Linked DNA regions of Homo sapiens. The protein of the gene in region 1 purifies or fractionates together with the protein of each later gene. This does not show direct contact. Each region holds a gene or a part of one and is shown in the gene's direction. Other genes may lie near its edges. The genes, in order: ZNF146 and DNAJA4.

Evidence for each region.
Region 2: the proteins of ZNF146 (region 1) and DNAJA4 purify together in Homo sapiens (affinity purification with mass spectrometry, with the first as the bait; one large-scale study listed by BioGRID). This does not show direct contact.

The regions. Positions count from the first base shown.
Region 1 is NC_000019.10:36,232,055-36,235,872, forward strand, and holds part of ZNF146 (zinc finger protein OZF), read left to right. Parts: intron 1-3,529; exon of another isoform or gene 3,530-3,604; 5' UTR 3,605-3,818.
Region 2 is NC_000015.10:78,278,046-78,281,863, forward strand, and holds part of DNAJA4 (dnaJ homolog subfamily A member 4), read left to right. Parts: intron 1-162; exon of another isoform or gene 163-755; intron 756-1,999; coding exon 2,000-2,100; intron 2,101-2,199; coding exon 2,200-2,415; 3' UTR 2,416-3,818.

The DNA.
Region 1 (3,818 bases):
TAGCTGGGCGTGGTGATGCACACCTATCGTCCCAGCTACTCGGGAGGCTGAGGCAGGAGAATCGGTTGAACCTGGGAGGCGGAGGTTGCAGTGAGCTGAGACTGCACTCCGGCCTGGGCAACAGAGCGAGACTCCATCTCAAAAAAAAAAAAAAAAAACATACAAATTATGTGACTACAAATATGAACATATTTCTTTCTCTTTATAAAATTTTTGAATCTTGGCCTTTGATTATGAAATATTCTACTTATGTAGGTACTACTTATATAAACTTGAATTCAGTTTTCATTAAAATGTTTGTTACTTCTGCCTTTTTTCCTCTTCCCTCTGCTTGTCCATTACTTCATATTTTCCAGAGGAACTTACAAGTTCTCAGCAAATGATACCTTAAACATGGTTTTAGATTTTGCCGTCTATAGTCTGCATTATAATCCGGTTAAAAGGAAGGTCCATGTTTTATTTTTCTGATCAGTAGTTTGAGAACGCATGAGTTGCTGTTAAATAATCTATGAATTTTTTGTGTGGAAATACTGATCAGTTCTTTTTTCTTTTTTCTTTTTTTTTTTTTTCCCGAGACATAGTCTCCCTCTGTCACCCAGGCTGGAGTGCAGTGGTGCGATCTGGGCTCACTACAACCTCCACCTCCCGGTTTCAAGTGATTCTCCTGTCTCAGCCTCTTGAGTAGCTGGGATTATAGGAGCATGCCACCACATCCAGCTAATTTTTTGTATTTTTAGTAGAGACGAGGTTTCACCATGTTGGCCAGGCTTGTCTTAAACTCTTGGCCCCACAGTGCTGGGATTACAGGTGTGAGTCACCATGCCCAGCCATTCAATTATTTTTTCATATGAACATTTTTTAAATATAACAAATGCTGAAGGAATAGTTAAAGAATCTCTTATGTACCCCCCATGTGGATTGAATAATTAATATTTTGCCACGCTTTTGTATGTCCGTATCCATGTGTTTATTTTGTGTGCTGAGGCATCATGATGTTTTACTTCTAAAAAATTAAATATGTATTTTCTACCAAGAAAAGCAGCTCCTGGCCAGGCGTGGTGGCTCACGCCTGTAGTGCCAGCACTTGGGAGGCAGATACGGGCAGATCACCAGATGTCAGGAGTTCCAGACCAGCCTGGCCAACATAGTGAAATCCTGTCTCTACTAAAAATACAAAAATTAGGCGTGGTGATGCATGCCTGTAATCCCAGCTACTTGGGAGGTTGAGGCTTCAAGAATCACTTGAAGCCAGGAGGCCGAGGTTGCAGTGAGTCGAGATCGCACCACTGCACACCAGCCTGAAGGGGTGGGTTTCCCCTCCACAGCTGTGGGCGTTTCTCGTCAGGTGGAAGGACTGACTTGGAAAAGAAAGAGACACAGAAACAAAGTATAGAGAAAGAAAAATGGGCCCAGGGGACCGGCGTTAGGGAGGACCTGCATACGGAGGACCTCTCAAGAGGACCGGCCTCTTGAGTTCCCTTAGTATTTATTGATCATTATCGGGCGTTTCTCGGAGAGGGGGATGTGGCAGGACAATAGGGTAATAGTGGAGAGAAGGTCAGCAGGAAAACGTGAACAAATGTCTCTGCATCATAAACAAGGTAAAGAAAAAAGTGCTGTGCTTTTGATGTGCATATACATAAACATCTCAATGCCTTAAAGAGCAGTGTTGCTGCCAGCATGTCCCACCTCCAGCCCTAAGGCGGTTTTCCCCTATCTCAGTAGATGGAATATACAATCCAGCTTTACACGGAGACATTCCATTGCCCAGGGAAGAGCAGGAGACAGATGCCTTCCTCTTATCTCAACTGCAAAGAGGTCTTCCTTTTTTACTAATCCTCCTCAGCACAGACCCTTTACGGGTGTCGGACTGGGGGACGGTCAGGTCTTTCCCTTCCCGCGGGGCCATATTTCAGACTATCACATGGGGAGAAACCTTGGACAATACCTGGCTTTCCTAGGCAGAGGTCCCTGCGGCCTTCTGTAGTGTGTTGTGTCTCTGGGTACTTGAGATTAGGGAGTGGTGATGACTCTTAAGGAGCATGCTGCCTTCAAGCATTTGTTTAACAAAGCACATCCTGCACAGCCCTTAATCCATTTAACGCTGAGTTGACACAGCACATGTTTCAGTGAGCACAGGGTTGGGGGTAGGGTTACAGATTAACAGCATCTCAAGGCAGAATAATTTTTCTTAGTACAGAACAAAATGGAGTCTCTTATGTCTACTTCTTTCTACACAGACACAGTAACAGTCTGATCTCTCTTTCTTTTCCCCACACAGCCTGGGCGACAGAGCAAGACTGTCTCAAAAAAAAAGGGAGCTCTCCCATATAACAAAATACCGTTTCACACCTTAGAAGATTAACCATGTTGTCCTAATATTAGACTACCCAGTCTATGTTCACATTTTTCCAATTGTCCCCAGAATGCCTTCCATAGTTTTTTAAAATTACAGAATGTAATCAGGGTTCAAGCTTTGCATCTGGTTGCTCGCCACCACGCCCGGCTAATTTTTTGTATTTTTAGTAGAGATGGGGTTTCACTGTGTTAGCCAGGATGGTCTTGATCTCCTGACCTCGTGATCCGCCCACCTCGGCCTCCCAACGTGCTGGGATTACAGGCGTGAGCCACTGCGCCCGGCCAGCCAGCATCTTTTGTCTTCAGCTGCAGAATGGTGCTGCAGGTCTTACCATATATGTGGGTTTAATCTCTGATTTCCGTATAGCAGCTCATTCCTGTCATCTCATTTGCTGAATGCCCCTGAGCTCTGATTAAAATTCTGCAGGGGATAAACTTCCATTTCATATGAAGGTGTGTCCAGTCCTTTGTTCTCGTGACTGGACAGTGCATGTTCAACTGTTCCTTACACTTTTTTTTCAGCCACCATCCTTTATTCCTTTTGAATAAGGGAATTTGTACCATTTTCTCCTTATAATTTTAATGGGGTTTTGGGAGGAAGCACTTGTTGGTTGATCTATTCCTTTTCTTAGAAAGATGAGCATTATTTAGCCAGGTATGGTGGTGCACACCTGTAATCCCAGTTACTCAGGAGGCTGAGGCTAGAGAATTGCTTGAACCCAGGAGGCGGAGGCTGCAGTGAGCCGAGATCGCACCACTGCACTCCAGCCTGGATAACGAGCGAAATTCCGTCTCAAAAAAAAAAAAAGAAGAAAGAAAGATGAACATTATTTTTCTTCCTTAGCATCCCAGGTAGACTTTCTAATTTTCATCTTTTTCTTCTATTTGGCAATTCTTCATTATTTGTTATACAACTTGCTAAATTCTGAAATGGAAAGGTTATTTTTCAAGAGTACTTTCAGCTTTGTGGACCCATGAATGTTAATTTTCTACCTAGATCACCTCAAGTAGGGTTCCCTTCTCATAATTTAGTTGGAAGCATTAATAATATAGATTATTTTCATATTGGGAGATGGGCTACCAGAGTTAATCTCAAAAAATTTTATTGCTAGTAATGGGAAAATTAACAAATAAAAGTGATAGTAATATAAAGGTAAAATGAAGGGCTTACCATATGGCAGCCATGGTTCTGGGCACTTTATGAATTTAACTCCTTTGTGCTATGGTTCTTTGTACTCCATTTTAGAAGAAGCCTGAGAAGATGATGCACAGATAGAGAGGCACCAGGACTTGAGAGGCACCAGGACTTGGGAGGCATGTTGATCCATCTCCAGGAAAGACTGAGAAAAAGAGCGTTGAATATAAGAAAAAATACTTCCTCTGTTCTCAGATCGTATTTGTTTTAAGGCCACACCTTTTTGAAGTTTTCAGTTTGAAACACAACCTGGACTGAAATCATG
Region 2 (3,818 bases), on another chromosome or scaffold:
GAAATGCCTTCTTCCCCAGAGCCTTTTAGCCTGTTATGAGCATTGCTGAGGATTGGATTAATTAAAAAAGTGATTTTGGAGCCACACAAGGGTGTGATGGCCCTGCCTGCAGGCAGGTATTTACCTGCCGGGAGAGCCTAACTCGTGGTCTTCTTCTCTTACCTGTAGTTTTCCATGCTTGGTCAGTTTCCCAGCTCCCAGCAAGCTAGAAGCAGAAGCATGGGGAGTAGGGCTTGAGAGCAGCAAGAAGCGACACCTGATAGGAATGGGGAGACAGAAAAACCAGTCATATGTAACTTAACGAAGGGGATATGTTCTGAGAGATGCATTGTTTGGCGATGTCGTTGTGGTGTGAACACCATAGAATGTACTCACACAGACCTAGATAGCATAGCCTGCTACACCCTAGGCTGTGTGGCATAGCCTGTTGCTCCTGGGCTAAAACCTGCACAGCAGGTTGCTGTACTGAATACTGTGGGCAGTTGTAGTACGATGCTGAGTATGTGAGTATCTGAACATAGGAAAGGTGCAGTAAAAGTTTGGTGTAATCTTTGCAACCATCTTCATAAATGTTGTTGACTGAAAGGTCACTATGCTGTGCATGACTGTATTTCTTTTTTTTTTGAGACGGAGTCTCGCTCTGTCGCCCAGGCTGGAGTGCAATGGCGTGATCTTGGCTCACTGTACACTCTGCTTCCCGGGTTCACGCCATTCTCCTGCCTCAGCCTCCCAAGTAGCTGGGATTACAGGCACACACCACCATTCCTGGCTAGTTTTTCTATTTTTTTTTTTTTTTTTTTTTTTTAGTAGAGACGGGGTTTCACTATGTTGATCAACCTGGTCTCGAACTCCTGACCTCGTGATCCGCCCGCCTCGGCCTCCCAAAGTGCTGGGATTACAGGCGTGAGCCACCGTGCCTGGCCATGACTGTATTTCAAAAAAAAAGAATAAACAGGAACACAAAAAGCCAGCAGCCTGGAGCAGTTTAGCTAAGGGGTTGCTGTCCTGCACAGTCAGTAGGCTCTGAAGGCCATGTCTGAACCACAGCCCTGCCTGCGAATGAATCTCAAGGATAGTCATTGGCTTACTTTATTTTTAAAACCTCCTCTTTAAAGATTTCCTCTTGAAGAGACAGCTCACTTTCTACATAGTCCCGTATGGAAGTGGACTGCTGAAGAAATTAGTGTTTCCATTCCCCTCCACCGTCTCCCCCATTTTTTCCGAACATTTCTTTCTGTCTTTGTCCATTTTCATCGCTGAGCTGAAGAGCATGCTTTATCAGAAACCCTTTTGTCCCTTTCCTTTTCCATGCTTAGAGGGAAGTTTCTGACTTGGGAGAACGCCTTAGAGTTCTTGGGGTCTGAACTCCTCTGATGCCTTCCAAAGTCACGTAGCTGTAAGACCCAGCGGGTGCCAGCCGGGAGGGTGACTCCAGCTCAGCAGCATGTATGGAAGTGCATTGTGACCATGAAGGAGTCTGCCAGTGGCCAAGCCACCTAGTGAGCTCCCTACCAAGGAACCTGGGTGTCACCTGCAGGTGGCCAAGAGCCAGTTTTTATGCCAGGCAGGGGACTGGTTGGACTCTATTGAGGCTTCTTCCTGTCTGTGGGGAGCACTCCTGTCCCCCTCGTGGTAGGGATACCTGTCACCCCACAAAGAGGCAGGGTGACAGGTGTTGGCCCCATTTTAGGCAGACTTGGGTGTCATGACTTCTAGTTCACTTGTTTTAAACCTACCTGTGATGGCAGCTGCACCATGCTGCCCTCTTGACACACTGCTGGAGCCCAGAGCACAGGCCAGAGTCTCAGCCTGAGCCCCTTCCCCAGGCAGTACCTGACAAGGATACCTGGGATTGGGGCCAGCTTTCCAGTCAGATGCCACGTTTCCTTTGCCCACTGCCACGGGGCACTAGGGCCTGCCGCAGGCTCTCCCATGAGGGAGAACGACCTCTGCAGGCCCCTCTGCCTTCCTCCTTCCTAATTGACCCTTTCTCTGGCAGGTGAGGTGATAAAGCACGGGGACCTGAGATGCGTGCGCGATGAAGGAATGCCCATCTACAAAGCACCCCTGGAAAAAGGGATTCTGATCATACAGTTTTTAGTAAGTTCACTATGTTTCATTGTCATGGACATATTATTAAATGCCTTAATTGGAAGGGGAAAAAACAGCCACCTTTCTTTCCCACCTCACCCTTTACAGGTAATCTTTCCTGAAAAACACTGGCTTTCTCTGGAAAAGCTTCCTCAGCTGGAAGCTTTACTCCCTCCTCGACAGAAAGTGAGGATTACAGATGACATGGATCAGGTGGAGCTGAAGGAGTTTTGTCCCAATGAGCAGAACTGGCGTCAGCACAGGGAGGCCTACGAGGAGGACGAAGACGGGCCCCAGGCTGGAGTGCAGTGCCAGACGGCATGACGTGGTGCGGGGCAGCGTGGCCCCACCGGACTAGCACATGATGAATGTAAAGTTGGCACAATGAAAATGACATCGCTTTAATGGCCTTGTGTTTGGGATGTCCTGTGTATGTGTTCAGCATTCTTAATTGCTGAGTGTCTTTTTGGCTTTTCTTTTGGTTGTAACTTAAGTTATAGCTTAATTTATATTTAAATGTTTTAAGTATAAATCACCTCTAGTCTGCATATGGAATCTGTTCATTTCTATTTTCAGGATATACTTTTGAGATGTCAGTGATTGCACCAATACTTTGTGCTTCTAGTGGCTTTGCCATAATTCAGTGTCACCAATAAGGCACAGCCCAGTTAGCAGCTTAGCCCCCCTAGCAAACCCCAAGGCACAAAGTGGGCATCCTGACTCATCTCTAGGTCTGTGGTTTCTCCCCTCTTCCCTTGGCAGAGTTATTGAGGGCATGATCTCAGGGCTGCTAAGATAACATTTCTGAGGATTCTAGATGATCCTCTTAAAGAATAAAAGCACATCCGTGGATCGGACATGGCTGCATGTGCCTGCTTAACAGGGCCAACTTAGTTCCTACTGTTCTGTGCCCTTCAGTGGATGGAACGTGAGTGTCTGATCATCTCTCTTGGAAGTTTTCTGAACCTTCCAAGCTCTGTGGTGAGGACAAACCAGTGTTTGAATCATATGCTGATAACTGTTTGCCTGTGACCCTCACACCTTGTTCTTCAGGGTTTTAATGATTTTCTGTTGACAACTTTTGCAATGCTTTCCCACCAAAGTGCTTACTTGTAAAGAAAACTAAATCCTTCTGTGTCCCCGGCAGCCTCAGTGCAGCAACAGAAGCCAAGGGAGAATGCTGCTGGTTTGGCCCATGGCACAGCCAGCTTCTCTGACCAGTAATCCGGGGTGACTTGAGGGTCTGCAAAGGCATAGAACTCCCCAGTGTTTTCCACCTCATTCTCCCAGATTGAGCTCCCTTCCAAAGGATCGTTCCTCTCATTGCACAGCCATATTACAAAGGGTTTCCTGCTCAAGTGATGTTTTGGTAAGAACTTCGCTGAGTTCCACTGTGGATTACAGTTTGTATGGACTACTACTGTAAATTATAGCTTGTTTGGAGGGATATTAGTCATTATTTTATTCATGACAGGTAGACTACAATTCGAACTTAGGGTTACCTCAGTCTTTAGCCATTACTGCTTATTTCTTTTCCCCAAGTCACAAAAAACTTGTAAGCTGCTGGGTTAAAGCAGAGGCCACCTGTCAGATCTACCCTACCCTTATTTGGTTACATGGCACCTGAGAGTTTCACTCAGACCAGGGATCTTCCTTAGGAGGGTCAAAGTGCAGATCAGACCATGCAGGTAAGGTGAACCAGCTGCACGGACCAGGTTCCCGCAAAA